3 separate regions of the Homo sapiens genome follow, and regions 1 and 2 are each linked to region 3. The links come from fine-mapping of genetic effects on gene expression. A gene starts in region 3. Each other region holds a variant in brackets. All regions are shown on one strand. Distances are from middle to middle. Region 1 holds the start of CLEC4E (C-type lectin domain family 4 member E). Region 2 holds the start of LOC124902872 (a long non-coding RNA gene). Region 3 holds the start of CLEC6A (C-type lectin domain containing 6A).

Region 1 (7,032 bases), 84 kb before region 3:
TATTTGAAAACTCATAACATCCTATTTATATCATATCATCATTCCAACAAGAAATGAAATGCACAGAATTCCCTCCTTGAATAGAAAGGAGATACTCAAGAATGTGAAATGGGGTTACCCAATGCATGCACAGTCAGGTGGCTGACAGGTCACCATAAATTTGGTTCCCCTGAGGAGTTGGCTAAACCTATAGCTGAATAGGCCCCTCTCTCTGGTCAGCTGTCAAGGCAGCAGTGTGGCTTACAGATAGATGGCAGTTCAAGGGTAAAGGGCTGGCCGTCAACCTGGGAAGCAGCAGCCCTGGGATCAGTTAGTGATTGCATGTTAGATGAAAAGACAAAAAATAAATCTGCCCCAAGGCTAAAATTGAGTGATGTTTCTCTTGGCATCAAAGAAAAGTAGATACTAACAATACTCGTATGGCATAGATGTTTACAGCTTTTACTGATTCTTTTTCAGTTGCCTGAAATATTGACAGGCAATATAGTTTAGAAAAGGGACTTAGACGATAAGTTCCTGGATGATATTTAAAAAGGGAAATCAAAGAATCTATTGCTGAACAACAGGTGCTGGAGAGGATGTGGAGAAATAGGAATGCTTTTACACTGTTGGTGGGACGTAAACTAGTTCAACCATTGTGGAAGTCAGTGTGGAGATTCCTCAGGGATCTAGAACTAGAAATACAATTTGACCCAGCCACCCCATTACTGGGTATATACCCAAAGGATTATAAATCATGCTGCTATAAAGACACATGCACACGTATGTTTATTGTGGCACTATTCACAATAGCAAAGACTTGGAACCAACCCAAATGTCCATCAATGATAGACTGGATTAAGAAAATGTGGCACATATACACCATGGAATACTATGCAGCCATAAAAAATGATGAGTTCATGTCCTTTGTAGGCACATGGATGAAGCTGGAAACCATCATTCTCAGCAAACTATCGCAAGAACAAAAAACCAAACACCGCATGTTCTCACTCATAGGTGGGAATTGAACAATGAGAACACTTGGACCCAGGAAGGGGAACATCACACTCTGGGGACTGTTGTGGGGTGGGGGGAGGGGGGAGGGATAGCATTAGGAGATATACCTAATGCTAAATGACGAGTTAATGGGTGCAGCACACCAGCATGGCACATGTATGCATATGTAACAAACCTGCACGTTGTGCACACGTACCCTAAAGCTTAAAGTGTAATAAAAGATAAATAAAAATAAATAAAAATTAATCCCCCCCCCCAAAAAAGAAATCATTAAGCATGGTCAACTTTAGAAGAATGCACTAAGGATAGTTAAGAAGGCTTTTACTTGTCACATGCTTTTCATAGTATTAATCATAAAACATATTACTCGTATAATTTGGGGAAAATCAATGAAACAAAAGATATAAAAACATTTTGGCTGGAAAAAATATTAATTTATTGATTTCTGTTTAATTGTATATTGATAAAAATTAACATACAATTGTTTAGTAATATTGATGGTTGCTGGTTGATTGTAATTAATAAAAGATGGACTGTGGTAATTATGTTCATCATTTTATAATTCATATAGCTCATCCACTAGATAGTTTCTCTTTTTTTACTGATCAAAAGCTATTTGCTGAGAATACACATATTAAATATGGGTATATTCTATAATATACACATATATAATTTAAAGATATTTTTAAAATTGTATTACTATAAAACAGAGAATGCAGAGAAAATTGACCAGTACCTTGAAATAATAAAAAGTCCCTTTGAGAACAAGAATATTTTCTCACACATGGAAAATTCGTGAGTCACTGGATGTGGGGATTTACCAAGTCATGTACATCATACTTATGCCTCCTGACTCGTGAACTTAAATAAACTGAGACCAGTGTGATCTTATTCTTAAGTATCTTTAAGTAAGGAGAAGGCACATATCTAACTATTCTTCCAGAGAAGCATTAATTCTTTTTTTTTTTTTTTTTTGAGACAGAGTCTCACTCTATCGCCCAGGCTGGAGTGCAGTGGTGCAATTTTGGCTCACTGCAACCTCTGCCTCCCAGGATCAAGCTATTCTCCTGTCTCAGCCTCTCAAGTATCTGGAATTACAGATGCGTGCCACCACACTTGGCTAATTTTTGTATTTTTAGTAGAGGTGGGGTTTCACCATGTTGGCCAGGCTGGTCTCAAACTCCTGACCTCAAATGATCCACCCACCTTGGCCTCCCAAAGTGTTGGAATTACAGGCATGAGCCACTGCTCCCGGCCCAGAGAACCATTAAATTCTAATATCTAATTGAAATTGCTTTTTCTGACCTTCAAATACATTTCTCCTACTGTAGGCTGTAACATAGAACTAAAATCCCCAAATAATTGAGAACAGGAGAATTAAACTGCCTGCTGGGTCTCTGAGACTTCAGAAGCTGCGTTATGTTGTGAAAAACTAAGCTGAGTTTCAAAGTGGTCTAATCACATGAGGCTGTCCTGCTGAGGGGGACTCTAGTAGTCAGCCTAGTAGTAGCAGCCTAGTAGTCAGCATAAGATAAGAGGGACATAAATCCACAACATTAGAATATTCAAGAGCTGCAAATGAAGAAGAAAGAAAAACCATAAAAGATGAAAAAGAGGACGGGCGCGGTGGCTCACGCCTGTAATCTCAGGACTTTGGGAGGCTGAGGCGGGCGGATCACGAGGTCAGGAAATTGAAACCATCCTGACGACCACAGTGAAACCCCGTCTCTGCTAAAAATACAAAAAATTAGCCAGGCGTGGTGGCGAGCGCCTGTAGTCCCAGCTACTCGGGAGGCTGAGGCAGGAGAATGGCTTGAACCCGGGAGGCGGAGCTTGCAGTGAGCGGAGATCATGCCACTGCACTCCAGCCTGGACGACAGAGCGAGACTCTGTCTCAAAAAAAAAAAAAAAAAAAAAGATGAAAAAATTCAGGTTGCCATGTCCTAAATACATACACTATATGCCCAGCTTTGTGCTATGTTGTCTAAGTCTTCTTTTCAGTTACCAAATGTGTGGATGGTACAGATCCAAAGTGAAATTCAGAGTGCAGAGGTGAGCTCCATATTGTCAAGGAAAAACTGGGGGATGAGTTATGCCTTGAAGAAACTAGAGACATTTGGTCCAACGAAACGAAACAACATTTAAAAAAAAAACTCTCCTGTTTCCCCATGGCTAGCCTATTTGTGTTGATGCTTACCATTTCATAATTTCCTCATTTTGTTGTTACATGGAGTGAAGAGAACTGACATGCTGTCCAATAAACTTCCTTGTCCTCCTTATGCAAGAAAGGAAATCCTGACTTAATGCGTAGCCACAGAACAAGTTAATATTCTACATCTATCGGAGCTGAACTTCCTAAAAGACAAAGTGTTTATCTTTCAAGATTCATTCTCCCTGAATCTTACCAACAAAACACTCCTGAGGAGAAAGAAAGAGAGGGAGGGAGAGAAAAAGAGAGAGAGAGAA[A/G]CAAAAAACCAAAGAGAGAGAAAAAATGAATTCATCTAAATCATCTGAAACACAATGCACAGGTAAAATCTGCAACTCTTCCTTTCCTTCCATAGATCTCTTTTTGGAACAAGTGATAAATATGGTGAAAGACAGGACAATAGAAAAGTATTCACTGAAGTTAAAAAAAAAAGTGGGGGGACAGAGGAAGAGAGAGAGAGAGATTTAAAGACTATTTCTTATACCAGAAAGCCTGCTGGCCTCTAGCTAAGGGAGAGCTATCAGTTTCCACCCTTTCTGCAATACATTGTGTCCCTTTTGGCAAGTCACTTCACTTCTCTGGAACTCTCTTTGTCTGTAAAATGTTTAATGGGAGGAAGAGAGGAACTATTAGATGACTGTTAACATTTTACCTAATTTACAAAGCGCTTGAAAAGTGAGACACAGAAAAAAAAAAAAGATCAGGAGAAGGACAAGAAAAGCAAAGACGAGAAAAGGGAAAAGAAAGAAAAAGAAAGAAGGGGGGCCTTAGAAAATACTGAAAAAAATTTAACTGAGAGACTTAGAAAGGAAAAATTGTATATCTGAGTTCATGAGTCAGAGTCTTACTCCAGGGGTGCTAAACGTGTGGTCCTCAGACCAGCAGCAGCAGTAGCCCCTGGGAACTTGTTGGTTCCATACAAACTCTACTGAGTTGCTAACTCTGGGGGTAAGGGTCAGCAATCTGTGTTTCCATAAACCCTCCAAGTGATTCTGAAGCATGCTGAAATTTGGGAATTACTCAGTACAAACAATGGAAGTAGAAGGAAATAAGTAAGGATGAATAAGAATCTCTTCTATCTCTTTTGTACCTTGCTTAGGGAAGATTGATCATGTTTGTGTCTTTCTTTCTACAGAGAGAGGATGCTTCTCTTCCCAAATGTTCTTATGGACTGTTGCTGGGATCCCCATCCTATTTCTCAGTGCCTGTTTCATCACCAGATGTGTTGGTGGGTTCTGAAGGTCAAATTCAATTTAATTCTTCCTGGTGCATATTAGGAGAAAACTCTTCCATGCTGCCTGTAGACTCTCTTTGCCCTCAAAGGGTCTTTCTATTTCACCCTTTTTTTTTTCCCTATTAATCTCTAGGTTATTTCTCAAACCAGAAACCTCAACAAGCAGGGAACTGTTTCTGAATTTTAATCACCTGTGACTTACTTTTCATGATAGACATTTTTCACTTCCTTGGCAGTCCTGAATCCTCCTCTTTCAGCCTCTATCATTAGTGTAACCTTCTCTAGGAGAGTCTGCCTTAGAGCTTGAACTACTGGTCGGCACCAGAGATATGACTAATTACTTTTGGAAGGAAGGGTAGAGAGAGTTGGACTTGGCATAAGAGGTAGTGCAAACATATCTATTTTCTCTGGGTCGTAAGAAAAAGCAGATTGTAAGAAAAAACATGATAATTATTGGCACTTTTGTTATAAATACAAAACTGAGGGAACTGACATTTTTAACCGAAATAAGACTAACAAACATTATGCCCTTTCTTTTACAGTGACATTTCGCATCTTTCAAACCTGTGATGAGAAAAAGTTTCAGCTACCTGAGAATTTCACAGAGCTCTCCTGCTACAATTATGGATCAGGTATAATAGTCCCAAAGGTGAACATCAAAATTTACAAAGCAACATTTTCTGGCTTCTAGATTGACTTTGGGACAGGTGAGATATAGCTGGATTAGGTCTTATTTTTCAAAAGCAAAATGTAAAATCCTAGAAATTTGGTGATGCAATTAGCATTGGGGCAGAAAGTCTTGGGGACATTATAGTAAACTTTTAGAATAAATTTGAGGGGTATGTCTGAACAGTAAATCTGGAAGTGGAAGGTATTATTCCCAGGAGTGTACCTTTTTTTTCATTCACCTACTTCCAAAATGAGATGGAGAAAAAACGTATGGAGTAGAGAATTTATAAATATCTCACAAATATACTCTCTATGCTCTTCTATGTCATCCTGTTGCAAGTCCTAGCAAAATGCTACATGACACTAAAAAAGTGACTTCCTTCTCTGAGCTATAATTTTCTCACCATTAAATTGAGAGAAGTTAGAAGAATTATTTATAATAGACCTCAAAGGCAAAAGTTCTGTAATTCTAAGAAATCTAACTGTAGGGACCAGCCCCACAGGGTTGGTGGGTCTCTCCCTGTGTCCAGAGACGAGAGCATGTAGAAATAAAGACACAAGACAAAGAGATAAAAGAAAAGGCAGCTGGGCCCAAGGGACCACTACCACCAATGCGCGGAGACCGGTAGTGGCTCCGAATGTCTGGCTGCGCTGTTATTTATTGGATACAAGGTGAAAGGGGCAGGGTAGAGAGTGTGAGTCATCTCCAATGATAGGTAAGGTCATGTGGGTCACGTGTCCACTGGACAGGGGGACCTTCCCTGCCTGGCAGCCGAGGCAGAGAGGGAGAGGAGACAGAGAGAAAGACAGCTTACGCTATTATTTCTGCATATCAGGGACTATTAGTACTTTCGCTAATTTACTACTGCTATCTAGAAGGCAGAGCCAGGTGTACAGGATGGAACATGAAGGCAGACTAGGAGTGTGACCACTGAAGCACAGCATCACAGGGAGACGGTTAGGCCTCCGGATAACTGCGGGCAAGCCTGACTAATGTCAGGCCCTCCACAAGAGGTGGAGGAGCAGAGTCTTCTCTAAACTCCCCCAGGGAAAGGAAGACTCCCTTTTCCTGTCTGCTAAGTAGCGGGTGTTTTCCCTTGACACTTAACGCTACCGCTAGACCACAGTCTGTCTGCCTGGCCACGGGCGTCTTCCCAGACGCTGGCGTCACCGCTAGACCAAGGAGCCCTCTGGTGGCCCTGTCCGGGCATAACGGAAGGCTCGCACTCTTGTCTTCTGGTCACACCTCACTATGTCCCCTCAGCTCGTAGCTCTGTACGGCCTGGTTTTTCCTTGGCTATGATTATAGAGCGAGGATTATTATAATATTGGAATAAAAAGTAATTGCTACAAACTAATGATTAATGATATTCATATATAATCATATCTAAGATCTATATCTGGTATAACTATTCTTGTTTTATATTTTATTATACTGGAACAGCTCGTGTCCTCTGTCTCTTGCCTCAGCGCCTGGGTGGCTTGCCGCCCACATCTAACCCATCTATATACTACAGTATGGAGATTTGATTGAGGATACATTGTTTAGGTAACATAAGAGATGGCTCTTTGGGGGTCACCCAAATAAAATGCATAAATTTCTCTGACATTAGTAGTCTAAGAACAGATAATAAGGTTCTATATCAATAGCATAACTAAGATAGTTTGCATATATAGTTGCATTTCCTGGCACTGACATCCAGAGAATGAGAATTACGTTCAAAAGACCAAAAACATTCTGTTTATGTTTCTTGACATTGGAATTATCTAAAGTCTTAGATACTAAGATGTAGGGTATGAACAAGTGATTCCAAGGCTTCTGACTTAAATGAGGACTCCATGGGGCCAGATGAAGCTTTGGGTTTTCTTATTCGGTTCACCTGGGACACTCACTGAAACATCTCTCATCCTAGGTTCAGTCAAGAAT
Region 2 (7,032 bases), 110 kb before region 3:
TTCAGGCCAGGGAAGCCTTGAAGGCTGGGGGCCCAGCTGCCAGTCCCACAGACTGGAGCGGGGACATGTGGTATCTCCTCTAGGCCCACCCATGGCCAGTCATGGACCAATCGGCAGGCACTTCCTCCCATCTGAGGTCCATAAAAGCCTAGGGCTCAGCCAGAGTAAAGTAGAGGGCAGAGAAAAGCCCTGGGCTCAGCCAGAGAAGGGCAGAGGACAGAGGACTGAGAGAGGACTGGACAACCAGCTGCAAAGAGGAGCTACCTTCTCTGTGAGAGCTTCAGAGACCTGCAGAGACATTGAATGAACTGCCTGCAGAGAGGAGTCACCCTCTCCAAGGTCTTCGCTCTGCTAAGAACAGCAGACAATGGGGCAACCAGTGGGCAGAGAGGAGCTACCCTCTTCAGAGCCTCCTCTCTGCTGAGAGCTGGACACTTGATTGGATGATCTGCCTACAGAGAGGAGCAACCCACTGTGGATTTTCTCTGAGCTGTAACACTCAATAAAGCTCTTCTTTGTCTTGTTCACCTTCCACTTGTCTGCATAGGCAGGATTTGGCACCACTGGCAGTGACACTGTAACATTTTGGGGGCTCATCTGGGATCTCCAAAAGGGTAAGTAAAAGTGGATCTACTTTCTGTCCTTTCTTTTGGAGTCTCTAAACTCCACAATAGTCAAAATGAAAGAAAAATACCAGGCTTCTGTCAACCAGTTAAAAGCAACTAGTGCAGCTGCAGAACTTAAGACATGAAGGACAGGCTTGCTGGGGAGGGACACTGTCAATCCCCCATCAACCTCAGGTGTTGGGAATGTTGGCTTTGTTCTAACCCAATTTCCCTTCATGGAGGTCTAGCCATCTCATGGGACTGGAAGGAGGTCCTGGGGCAACTGAGGGTATCTGGCCAAGGCTACACTTTGGTGTTATTCAAAGGCTCCTGGACTAACTCCAGTCCCCAACTGCCCATTAGGGTGTCCGCACTAGGACCTTCAGCCTTTCCTATTGTTCTTTTCTTTCTTTCATGGCTATCATGGTTCCTATCTCTTTTATATACGATGTTAAATGTAAAGGATGTTGTTGCAAGCCAGAGATATTACTGGGTGGAATGAGCATTTGGCTTGGTCACCAAAGTGTAAGAGTAGCACAGATGTAGCAAAGTGTGTCTTGGTATCTGTATGTAAATTTGTGGTGAAAATGTTCTTGTAATTTACTTGGTTGCCAACTTAGTGCCAAGCACCTTGAGGCACAGAAGAGAAGCCTTGCCTCAGGAAGGAAGCTTTTCTGTAAACATGAGGGCAAAGGGTCCTAGGTCCCTTATGTGCAGGCCTTCTTTGCCTTGCATGTTAACCTGGATCTTTGCCAACATTGTAGGATTGATTCAGCCCTCCTAGTGGCCATCTCAGGAGAGGTTACAAGGGGCAATCCCAAGGAAATAGGGAAGCAAGCCCCAGAGATACCTCTAGGTACCTCTAGAAATCCTCATTTTAGGCAGGTGCCAGTCTCACTCCTGCCCCTACAACAGATGCCTGATGAATATGGCCCTGTTAAGATCCAGGTGCCCTTTTCTCTTCAGGATTTATTGCAAACTAAGGGGGATCTTGGCAGGTTTTCAGATGGCCCTAATAGGTATGTAGAAGCTTTCCAGAAATTAACCCAAGTAACATGGCATCCTGCCATGAGTTCAGTTGGCTATGAGAGTGCAGAGGTGAGCTCCATATTGTCAAGGAAAAACTGGGGGATGAGTTATGCCTTGAAGAAACTAGAGACATTTGGTCCAACAAAACGAAACAACATTTAAAAAAAACTCTCCTATTTCCCCATGGCCAGCCTATTTGTGTTGATGCTTACCATTTCATAATTTCCTCATTTTGTTGTTGCATGGAGTGAAGAGAACTGACATGCTGTCCAATAAACTTCCTTGTCCTCCTTATGCAAGAAAGGAAATCCTGACTTAATGCGTAGCCACAGAACAAGTTAAAAGTGAAATATCTACACAAATTATTTGGAATCCTTCTGTATGAGAAAGGAGATTTGTCTATTTTCCCACATTTATTCATTTATTGACATCAGTATAGACTCATGGATATTTGTTTTATGGTTGGTTTGTAATCCAATGCTACATTATTTATTTTGTTGTTCAAGTTGTTCCAGCTTTGGACTGGGAGCTCTTTCGATTGGCTTCTGTTTTCTACAGCTAAAATTAGTGAAGAGATAATCTTCTGTTATTTCATTTAACCTTCAACCCAACCTTATAAAAATGTCTTTTTGTTATTCTTGTTTTACAAATAAGGGAGCTGAGGTCGAGAGTTTAATTTATGCAGCTGTTGATTGGCAAAGCCAGGATTCGAATAAAAACAGTCTTTAACCAGCATGCTATGTTACTTTCTGTCAATGTCTTCATTCAAAGACCACCAGGAACACACCTGTAGTTAAACAAGTTGTGTTTTTTTTGCAGTGAGGGAAAATGCATGTACATCTCCCCCTTTTCTGTTTTTTGCATCAGGTTTTGTTGATTGAAGAGTACAAATGTGTGCAACAACGGATTTGTCAAGTGTGGTGGTCACTGCTCGCATTCTGGCTTTGCATCCTAGAATTAGTAAATAACATAAGACAAACATGAGTATAATTAGCAACATTCTTTTTCAATCAAGGAGTGACCCCTCCCCCAGGAGTGGGGGTCTGTCTATCCAGGAGAAATGATCTCGCACACCCTTCCATCCTAATATATGAATCTATTGTGAGTACACCATTTCACATTAAGCTCCAAATCGCTGTCAGATTTTTCTTTCATTTGGACAGAGCTATTAATGAGTCACGTAGTTACGCTATTCTTTATGGAGGAAAAGAGTGAATAACCCCTTTTCAGAATATCCTGATGAAGAGAACTTGAAACAACAGAGAATATCAGAGAGGATATGTCCGGTTCATTCTTTTAAGCTACAAATATTTTATTCTATATCAGGATAATCATGAGCATTGAACCCTGACTTCCTGGACTCAAATCCTGGCTTCCCCAAATACTACTTGTGTGACCTTAACTAAATTACTTAATCTGTCTATGCTGCAGTTTCCTTATCTGATTCTGCCACTTACTAGATGTGTGATTTTCAGCAAATCACTCAGTGTCTTGGAACGTTCCTCATCCTTGGGCGCTCCCCTTCGTCTTTGCAGCGCTTGCTTTCGTTGCCTGGCAACGGGACGCGACACCAGGATTGAGCGTTAAGTGCGTGCTTTGGACGAGCGCATTACTGAGGCGGTTTTGACCGTTGGGCCTTGTCATTTGCTAGACTCACCTGGGTCCCCAGTCAGTGCCCGGCTCCTCCTCCTCCACCTCCTCGGGGCGGCACCTGCGGGGCAGGGGGAGCCCCTTCCACAAACCCGGGTAGGAAAACCAAGGTGGAGCGTTGCCAGATTCAATACAGTACCACATGCGCCGTCAACTTTGAATTTCAGATAAACGAGTTACTTTTGAGTACAAATATAGTATCACACAAAGTTATTCGTTGGTTATCTGAAATTCAGAGTTACCTGGGCATGCTGTGTTTATTTGCTGAGTCTGGCACCCCGGCCCGGGCCGCCTCCCTGTCCACTCTGGCTGGGTCTCCCAGGCATGGGCAAGGGACCTCCTTCTACCTCCTGTGGCAACTTCTTCAGGCTGGAGGCAGCTGTCTCTGTGGAAAGGGGCTTTCGTATGTTGAGCCAAGATGCCTATTGATGTATATGACAAATCACACTTAAAACAGGAGAGAT[G/A]GGTTATTCTCATCGTTCAAGGAAACAGGTGCTGAGCGAGATGGCAATCCTTGCCCGTGTCCTACCGATATGTCCACAATTCCCAGACAGGTCCTGGACTTGGGCCGACCCTTAGGAGGGAAATTTCATACGGAAAATTTTTATTTCTATAATCTATAGCTTTTAAAATTAATAAAATGTCGTTTAATGTCTCTTTGAATATGTTACTTATACTTATTTTCTATATTTTGTCTGTTTTTTTAAAAATAGTTTTTGAGTGTAAAGTATTTCATTTGTTGTATTTATTGTCTCATTTTCATGGTCTTGCAAACCAAAAATGAAGATTTCTTCCCAGGGCAATCAAGGAAGAAGACTTTCACTCAATTATCAGCTCCCAAAGTTGAACTTCGATTTAAGCTATTCCCTGCATTTTCTACATGAGAAAACATTAGAGATAATGGTCCCTTTCTCATGTTCATCTTTCTGGAGCAGCAGCAGGAGTCTGTTCCCATTTTTATGTTATTTCACTTCAAGTGACATTGAGATGTCTATGCAGTATTTGTGTCTTTGGATTATATCATACTGAAGAAATACAGTGAAGATACTGTGCTCTGAAGTCAGTTACTTTCCTCTGTGTGGTTAAGGCAGCAATGCCAACTCGATAGGGAATTAGGTTTATTTGTGCCACTTTGTTTTCAGTTTTAATGACTGTATTTACATATACATGCATACACATTCCTTTCCCCGCTGCTTTGTATTCCTTTCCCCAGTACAAAAGATGGCATACTGTGTGCAATTTCTGCACCTTGCTTTCTTCACTTCACCCTGTGTCCTGGAGTTCACACCCTACTTTACAGAGCTTCCGCATTCTCTTGTATATCTGCATAATAATCCATTGTGTTGCTCTGCCTCATCAGTCCTGAATTTGATGAATATTCAGATGGTGCTCCAGTTTGACTTTTGAAAATAATGGTGCAAATAACCATGTGCATCTGCCATTTCATATTTTTGCAAGCATATCTTTGTTTTGTTTTTGTTTCTGTTTGATACAGAGTCTTGCTCTGTCGCCCAGGCTGGAGTGCAGTGGCATTTTGTATCTTAAAGGTATTTTCTGACTTTCTTGTACCTGGAAGTCTACTTCTCTAGTAAGATTAGATAATTTTTTCTGAATTATTCTTTTAAATATGCTTTCCAGGTTGCTTATCTTTTCTTCTCTTCCAAGAATGCCTGTAAGTCATAGGTTTGGTCACTTTACATAATCCCATATTTCTTGAATTTTCATTTTTTAAAAATTCTTTTTTTCTTTATTTTTATTTGACTGAGTTAATTTGAAAGAGCAGTCTTCAGGCTCTGAAATTCCTTCTTCTGCTTGACCTAATCTATTATTAAAGCTTTCAAATATATTTTGAAAATCTTTAAGTGAATTTTTCATTTTTAGAACTTCTGTTTTTTAGATATCTATCTCTTCATCTCCTGGATTGCTTTCATGGTTTCTTTGTGTTGGTTTTCAAGCTTCTCTTGGATCTCATTGAGCTTCCTTGCAATCCATACTTTGTATTTTTCATCTGTCATTTCTGAGTGTTCATCTTGGTTAAGGTCTATTGATCCTTAGGTGGTGTCACAGCATTCAGATTTTTCATGGTGCAATAATCCTTACTCTGGTTTCTTCTCATTTGGGGAAGCTGACACTTCTTATTTTTAAATTTATTTTCATTTTGATGGGTTTTTTTCCCACTATTATTCCCCTTCCCCTGGGGGCGTGACTGTGGAAATGTTGGGTAGGGTCTTTTGGTTTTGCTTCTATAGATAGCCAGGTGCACTTTACTCTGCAGGTTTTACATTGAGCTGTGCAGTTTGACCTCCAGGCCAGTAGGCGGTGCCACCAGCCCATTTACGAGAGGGTTAATTGCGGTCACTCTGCAGACCTCTTTCTAATAATGGCCATTGTTGTTATCTCTCCCCTGCCCCTGACGTGGCTCTCTCAAAATCCTATTTGGGTAGAACAGTGACCTTTAAAGGGAGAGAAATTGCAAAGAGCCCATGAATTAGTTGAGGAGCAATTAAAAGCCGGCCATACAGAACCGTCAAACAACCCTTGGAATTCGCCCATTTTCGTCATCCCCAAAAAGTCTGGTAAATGGAGACTTTTGCATGCCTTGCGTGCTATCAATGCTAATTTGCAACCTATGGGGCCCCTTCAGTAGGGGCTCCCCTCCCCTGCAGCGATTCCTTGAGATTGGCCTATAATCGTTATTCACTTAAAAGACTGTTTTTATACTATTCCCCTTGCAGAACAGGACAGAGAAAAATTTGTGTTTACAATACCAGCTATCAATAATGAAAGGCCAGCTCACCGATTTCATTGGAAAGTGCTACCCCAAGGAATGCTGAGCAGTCCTACCATGTGTCAGTATCATGTAAATCAGGCTTTGCTCCCCAGTAGAAAAGAATTTCCTAATTGCAAGATTATTCATTTTATGGATGATATTTTACTAGCAGCCCCAACAGAGCCAGTACTTTTAAAGTTACGTGCCTCTGTCATAAGGAATACACAGTTAAGAGGTTTAATCGTAGCACCTGAAAAAGTACAAATTTCCTCTCCTTGGAAATACCTTGAGTATATACTAACTACCCGGTCAGTAAGACCCCAAAATGTTAAATTAAATACTGGCAACTTACATACCTTGAATGATTATCAGAAATGACTAGGTGATATTAACTGGCTTCGCCCAACCTTGGGCATAACTACTGATAAGTTACAGAACCTGTTGTCTATCTTAAAAGACAATGCTGCCCTAGACTCTCTAGGTATTTAACTCCTGCAGCACAAAGGGAAATTGAAGAGATAGAGCAAGCTATTTCTTAGAGGCAACTAGATTGCATTGATCCATGGTATTCAGTTCAATTATTTGTTTTTCCCACTAAACACACCTCTACAGGGCTAATAGGACAGATGACCCCAGGGCTGTCCTAGGATGGGTTTTTTGCTCACATACTGGGACTAAAACAGTCTCTCCCTATATCCAGTTAGTTAGTAAAGTCATCTATTTAGGCTGCAGACAAGGCAATCTATTACTAGGTTATGACCCTAATATCATCAGAATTCCTTTAAGTAAAAAGCAATTTGAAGCAGTATTGCCCTTATCTATGGACCTGCAAATAGCACTCTCTGATTACACAGGCCGTATAAAGCACGCCCTTCCTGCTGACAAACTCCTTCAGTTCTTATCTCGTACTTCTGTGCTTTCGCCTACAAAAATAGTTCAATCCCCCATACCTAATGCTTTAACACTGTTTATTGATGG
Region 3 (7,032 bases):
GAGGCTTTAATAAAACATACACACACAAATGCACAATAGAATACACCAATCTTGAGCTCAACCCTGATCTCTCCCTGAGAAAAAAGAAAGTCTATTTCAGTATTTTAAAGATTTACCTGGCACCTTTGTCCCTTCACTGAAGCAGGTGAGACTTGAATGATATGAGTGTAGTTCAGACAGCCTTTTGCCAGTTTCACCATATGTAAAATGGTAAGTTACTGTAAAGGAAGAAGAAGGATTAGTGTCCATCTATTATTTTGCTATAAAGCCTTAGGCTCTATATCTGTACAGTGCTGGCTTACCTCTGACCCCCACTGCTGTTTCTCTAGGCAAGCCCCATAAAAACCATGCCAAATTATTATTTGCTTGTATTCACTTATCTTATTTTTTTATATATATCCCTCATTTAATTTTTTGGTCTTTTCACCACTAGAATTTAGGCTCCATGCTCTTGGACAGAGATTCTGCCTGTTTCCCACAACAATTAATCACAAACACAACTTAAAGGTATCAAAACATCTCATGTACCCCGTAAATATATACACCTACTATGTACCCACAATTTTAAATAATAATTTAAAAATATTTTATTATAAAAAAAGAAGGAAGTCTGAAGGTGAAAACTGATAATTTTTTTTAATCACAAACACCTACAAGGGTAACTGTCACAAAGTCATCAATAAATATTTATGGACTCACTGGATGTCTGCTTCTCCTTAGCCTTAATAACCTTGATGCAAGCACACAGGTTATTTTGATGTTTTCTAGATAATTCTAGCTGCAGGTAGCCACACATAAACATATGGGCTAAGTAACCACCAAGGGGAAACTTTAAACGTTTATAAAAATATTTTTAATGTCTCAAATGAACATTAACTTTTATGTTAATGTTCACTTTCAGCAAGACCTTTTATCTCTCAGGATCTGATCTGATTCTTCACTCATTTCTTTTTTGTCCTTCTATAACTAGAGCTCAATACAACCAAATCTTTCTGCCCCGCTCTTAGTTCATGTTTTGAGATCCTGAATTTGTGTTTCTTTTTATGAAATAACTATTCTTAAACCCCCTTCTCTCTTGCACTTGATTATGAAAAGTAAAACAGATTCTAACTTTGGTGATAATTATTTGTATTTTACTAAATATTGTGAGATTTATTTAAATCTCTGAGGGAACTATAGCTACAACCTGATTGACAGGGGAAGTCACTTTCACTCCCTCCCAGACTATTCAATACCCATTTTTAATCACCTTATCAATGAATAGAAATCCAAATTGTGAATCGGAGAGGAAAAAGGTCTTTAAGACTTCTCACACAATGAACTTGAGACATGTATTTGGAGGCAAGCAGAACAGGGAAGAAATATTTTATCCTCTTTATCTCCATCATTTCATTTGAATACTTTTTCCTCTCACATTGGAAAGGATCTGCACATGAATCAAAGAATCTAATATAGAATATGACAATTATGACAGCAATTAGAGTTGCACTCCCAATACAAGAGTTTTGTCACCAGGGAACACACAATTACTAGTGAATCCAGTCCTGAAAGATGGTGTCTTAGATGATGGCTACAATGGACAACATGGATATGTGAGGCCATGATTCAGAAAATGCTAATAAAACCAGGTAAAGTACATCTACAAGAATTCAGTTTTCAAAAGATAGAGGGAGAAAAACAAAGGGAAAAGGAGAAATCAAGGAAAGTGTGGCATTCCAAGTAAGAGCTGACGTATTAATGGGGCAAAGGAGAATATATCCTAGGAAACCTGTATGGAATATTCAAGGGAAAGGAAGCAAGGAAAATGCACCTCAGTGAAGAACTTACCTACACAGCTCACAATGAAGCAAGCACTGAGGAGTGCAATGGAAATCCCAGCCACAGACCAGAGTCTCAGGGACAACCAGCCTCTTTTCTCTGTCCAATCAGGAAGACAACAAATGCAGTTACCAGGGGGCCAGGGAGCCAAAATCCCCAGGAAGCTTACAACAATGAACAAACTAGATGAAGAACCTCAGAGCAGTTAAAAACTTAAAGCAAGAAGACAGCTTACAAACTCCCTCAGAATAAATAACCAGGTAGTAGCTCTGTGGTCCAAAAGAATACAGGTAAAACATACACTCAACCAACTGGAATTTCCATGTCTTTATTCTTTCTTCTAAACTATTACATGTTTCCATTGATTTCGTTTCTCAAAACATCACTTTTGTCTCCCATTTCTCATATCTCTGTATTGATATTTGGTTTCTTCAGTATATCCAAGAGATATCTGCACTCCCATGTTTATTGTAGCACTATTCACAGTAGCCAAGATATGAAAGCAACCTAAGTGTCCATCAACAGATGAATGGATAAAGAAAATGTAGTATAATATATACAATGGCATATTATTCCACCATAAAAAAGAATAAAATCCTGCCATTTGCAACAGCACAGATGGAACCAGAGGACATCGTGTTAAGTGAAATGAGCCAGGCACAGAAAGACAAACATTGCATATTCTGACTCATATGTGGGAGTTAAAAAAATTGATCTCATGGAGGTAGTGAATAGAATGGTGGTTACCAGAGGCCAGGAAGGTTAACTGGGAAGAGAAGATAGAGAAGGGTTGTTTCGTACCTACAAAAATACAATTAGCTAGAAGAAATAAAATCTAGTGTCCCTTAGCACAGCAGGATAACTGTAGTTAACTTTTTTTTTTTTTTGACATGGAGTCTCACTCTGTCACCCAGGCTGAAGCACAATGAGGCAATCTTGGCACCCTGCAACCTCCACCTCCTGGGTTCAAGTGATTCTCCTGCCTCAGCCTCCTGAGTGGCTAGGATTACAGGTGCATGCCACCATGCCCAGCTAAGTTTTGTCTTTTTATTAGAGACGGGATTTCACCATGTTGGCCAGGCTGGTCTCTAACTCCTGACCTCAAGTGATCCACCCACCTCAGCCTCCCAAAGTGCTGAGATTACAGGTGTGAGCCACTGAGCCTAACCCAACAATAATTTATTGCATATGTCAAAATAGCTAGAAGAGTAGATTTGGAATGTTCCAAACACAAAGACATGATAAATATTTGAGGTGATGGATAATGTAATTTTCCAGACTTTACCATTACGCATCATATTCTTGTGTCAAAATATGACATGGAGCCCATAAACATGCACAACTATTTTGTATCCATAAAAAATTTTAATAAAAATTTTTTTAAAACATTATTGATGGACATGCAAAGGGTTGAAGCTAAAGTCAAATTTTCATGCATTAAAAATGGGAAGCTTTTCTCTTACAAAAAAATTAGAAAAGCAAGTACAAAAAAACTTAGGGTAATTGGAAAGAGTACTGCTTCCTGGATTTCAAAATTAGTCAAAAGACTTTGAAGAGCAGACATCCAATAATCAGTTATTTCCCTGTTTACCTTCTATCATGTAAATCTTTTCTGTCTCCCTAAACTATCAATAAAATCTGGTACAAACCTCCCAAAAAATATTTGCTTTCTTATTCTTTCAAGTGCTTATGGCTCTGGCTCTGAAGAATTACTCTTTCTTTCAAATTCCTTTGAGTCTACTATATTGGTCCAATCACTAGCTCTTCAATCTGTTCTTTGGCTACTTCTTCTCTCCAGGTGATCTCATTTCACCATACACTTCCACTTTCCTCTGAAACTGAGGAAATACTCACCTGTACTTTGAGGTTGCTGCTCTTGCATCATTATGCAGGCTCCCTGTGTTGAGAAGGTCCAGGAACCTTTTGTACCTCTCTCCCTAAAGATGTTGCCCAGAGACTCAGCTTCATTTAAAGAAGCTAGAGCTCAGGGACAAACTGCTACACACTCTTATAGGACTAAGAGACTTCCAACATTAAGTGTACCTCAAAAGAAGAAGTCACAATTACAACTAAAGTTTCCAGTGATTTCGATACGTGGGGTTAAAAAAAACAAAAGAGGAATTGAGAAACATTGAAAACCATTCATGAGAACTTTGACAAGAATACTTAGATCATTTCTTCAGTTTCTAACATAAAATTTCTCTGTCTGATTCCTATTCATTCTGGCATGCAAAATAGAAAATTTTTTATCTCCTAAAAGACATCTATTTAGAGAACTTGGTTAAATTAAGTGCTCCCTAACTAACCTTTACATTGGCTGCTTATTTTATGCAAGCCTTAATCCATGTGTTGAACAGTGTCCTAGGTAGTAAGCAAAAGTTTGATTGGATGGATATGGTTTAGATATGAAGGGTAACATAGTAAATAACAAAACCCATGAACATTGTTAAGGAATGTGACTGCAAAATGAAACATTCTGAAATCAGTCTGCAAAGGTGATGAAACATTCTTACTGCATCCAGACTAATATTGGGCAGATGTCAGTGATATTTTGTAATCTCCCTGATTAGGCAAAAGGGAGCCTGAAGTGATATAAAATCAGAAACAGGCTTCATGAATTTTATATTGTAGCACAGAAAATATATGATGTTTTCTTGTCCTCATAGATTCTTAGTAGAGACACTGTCCTGAAAACAAAAGGCAGAGAAACAAGAGAAAAAGCAGCAGTTTATCAATGTGTGTTATACCCATCACTCAGGAGAGAACTCAGTTCAAATGTATTTATCTCTTTCATGGCAGTGGCTTACAGGCCTTGCTTAAATAGTATGTTAACAAACAGCCATAAATCTATGGAGTGCTGAGAACGAAAAAAAAAAAAAACTGTTATTTGAGGAATGTGAGTGCCTTGAAACTATCAAGTCCAGAGTGGACTCATGAGAGAGATATGACAGGAGTCATGCCTCACTGCCACCTTGCACGAAATTTACCTCTTGAAGCCATTTGCTATGTAGGTTCTAGACTAACTGAACCCTAAAATTTAACAGTATACAGCTAATTACTAATCAATGTGGTTTCTGTAAACCAATGATAATTTACTGATGAGTAACTTTTTAATTCACTCCCTCTCCTGATTCATTCTTTTTTTAATTTTTATTTTTCCATAAGTTATTGAGGTACAGGTGGTATTTGGTTACATGAGTAAGGTTTTTAGTGGTGATTTGTGAGATTTTTGTGCACCCATCACCCAAGCAGCATACCCTGCACCATATTTGTAATATTTTATCCCTCATCCCCCTCCCACTCTTCCCCCCAAGTCCCCAAAGTCCATTGTACCATTCTTATACATTTTGTGTCATCGTAGCTTAGCTCCCCATATCATTGAGAACATATGATGTTTGGTTTTCCATTCCTGAGTTACTTCACTTAGGATAATAGTCTCCAATCTCATCCAGGTCAGTGCAAGTGCTATTAATACATTGCTTCTTATGACTGAGTAGTGGTCCATTGTATATCTATACCACAGTTTCTTTATCCACTCATTGATTGATGAGCATTTGGGATGGTTCCATGATTTTTCAGATTCATTCTTTTTTCTTTAAAATCTTCAGTCTTTCCTTTGCTCTCTAGACCACTTCCCAAGGCAACCTACAAGTGTTTTCCTGGGTAGCTGTCCTCATCCTTTGCCCAAATAAACTCTCTATATTAATGTGGCTTCAGCTACTTCCTTTAGGATGATAGTGAAAAGACAAAGAAGAGAGTATCTTCACGATTCCAAAAGGAAATGAAATACAGGAAGGTATTTTAACAGGAAGAGTAAAATCTGCTTCTAAATCCTTTTACAAGTATCGTAAAGGAGCTAATCCTTAGCTGGGAAAAGTAGAAAGGAAGACAGGAAGACCTTTGTCTTTGTAAATTGTTGTTCTGCCAACAGGCAAGAAGAAGGAGGGGAAGAATGTTCTCCTACATTGCCACCTTTTTCAGCTCAACAATTTGCAGTTATCTTAGAGAAGGTTATTTTGGTTTCCTCCAATCATTACCTAAGGGCTTTGAAATACTTAATCATTCACATGCAGTCTCTAAAATGTAGATCATTCTATTAACATCACAAACAGCTCCACATTCTCAAGTGAGCAATCTTGTATACAAGAAAATCTACTAGAATATTGAACTTGTGATATTATAAGAAACATGTATATTTCATTTTTGTTTATCACAGAGCTTCTGAAACCCTAAAACTTCCTGGTTGATAGAAATGATTTGGTTACAATGTTTGGGTTTTGTCCTCAGCTTCTCAACCATGTTCTAGAGTAATAAAGGTGTAAGAAAAATCTTATGTTATCTATTTGTTTTTTGTTCCAAGTTTCTGAAATAGCTCCAGGGCAATAAAAGATGAAAGAAAAAAATTAACAATAGTTACCTAACTGAACATTAAAAAAAAAATTTTAAGATGAAAAGAGAGTCTTTTATGATTCATAACAAGTTTAACCAAGCCTGGTGTCTATGCTCGTGAGGTAACTCTTGATGTTCCCCAAGACTGCTTCAGGATGGGGGCTGGTTGCCAGAGGAACCAACCATGTGACTAGAGGATGGAAACTTTCAGCCCCACTCCTCCGGGGAAGAAAAAGGCCTGGAGATTGAGTTCAGTCACTAATGGCTAATGATGTAACCAACCATGCCTTCATAATAGAGCCTCCATAAAAACCTCTCAACAATGGTTTTAAACTGAACAGGGATTTTTAAAGTGACAAGATAGTTACAGCTATAGCGAATGATGAAATAGACATTGAGTAACAGGATAAAAGCTCAGAAAACTTCCCCAATGGTTAATTTGAGATGCATTTGATCATAAAAGGACAAGAGAGAAGAAGTGGTTATAAGATGTCAACATTTGTTTCCAGTTCCCGTCAGAGACAAAGAAACACAAACCCAAGGATTGAATCACTTGGTGGTCCAGTAAAAGAATGCATTCTCCTCAGCTATCTGGAGGTAAAGTAGTTTAAACACTTCTTTGGTTCTCATCTGTCTCCTATTATGCTCCCCTAATCACGTTCTGGTCTTGACCATTAGCAACCCTATGCTCCATTCTCTTTGCTTCTTTCTATTTATTTGTCCTGTATAAATTTCTAGATTACAGTGACATGCCTTTGAATCAAGAGCGCTGAAATGGTAGGAGCAAAGGCAAAAAGAAGAGATGCACCAATATAAAATATAATA

What was found. PIP is the estimated chance that this variant, and not a neighbour inherited with it, causes the effect.
Region 1: its variant is fine-mapped to the expression of CLEC6A in whole blood (TOPMed, PIP above 0.99). The same link has a PIP of 0.9 or more in blood mononuclear cells and monocytes.
Region 2: its variant is fine-mapped to the expression of CLEC6A in whole blood (TOPMed, PIP above 0.99).

Annotation. Positions count from the first base shown.
Region 1 is chr12:8,537,253-8,544,284 of GRCh38, reverse strand. CLEC4E (C-type lectin domain family 4 member E) reads left to right here and starts at 3,380. Exons shown (of 6, transcript NM_014358.4): 1 at 3,380-3,524; 2 at 4,338-4,430; 3 at 4,979-5,068; 4 at 7,019-7,032. The coding sequence starts at 3,488. The variant A/G (reference allele first, on the strand shown) is at 3,463.
Region 2 is chr12:8,561,076-8,568,107 of GRCh38, reverse strand. LOC124902872 (a long non-coding RNA gene) reads left to right here and starts at 172. Exons shown (of 3, transcript XR_007063203.1): 1 at 172-614; 2 at 1,883-3,380. LOC105369645 (a long non-coding RNA gene) reads right to left here and starts at 3,617. Exons shown (of 4, transcript XR_007063201.1): 1 at 3,527-3,617; 2 at 3,292-3,438; 3 at 3,092-3,185; 4 at 2,035-2,585. RefSeq lists enhancers at 2,828-3,459, 4,094-4,726. The variant G/A (reference allele first, on the strand shown) is at 3,749.
Region 3 is chr12:8,452,783-8,459,814 of GRCh38, reverse strand. CLEC6A (C-type lectin domain containing 6A) reads right to left here and starts at 3,853. Exons shown (of 6, transcript NM_001007033.2): 1 at 3,673-3,853; 2 at 1,828-1,917; 3 at 117-218. The coding sequence starts at 3,703.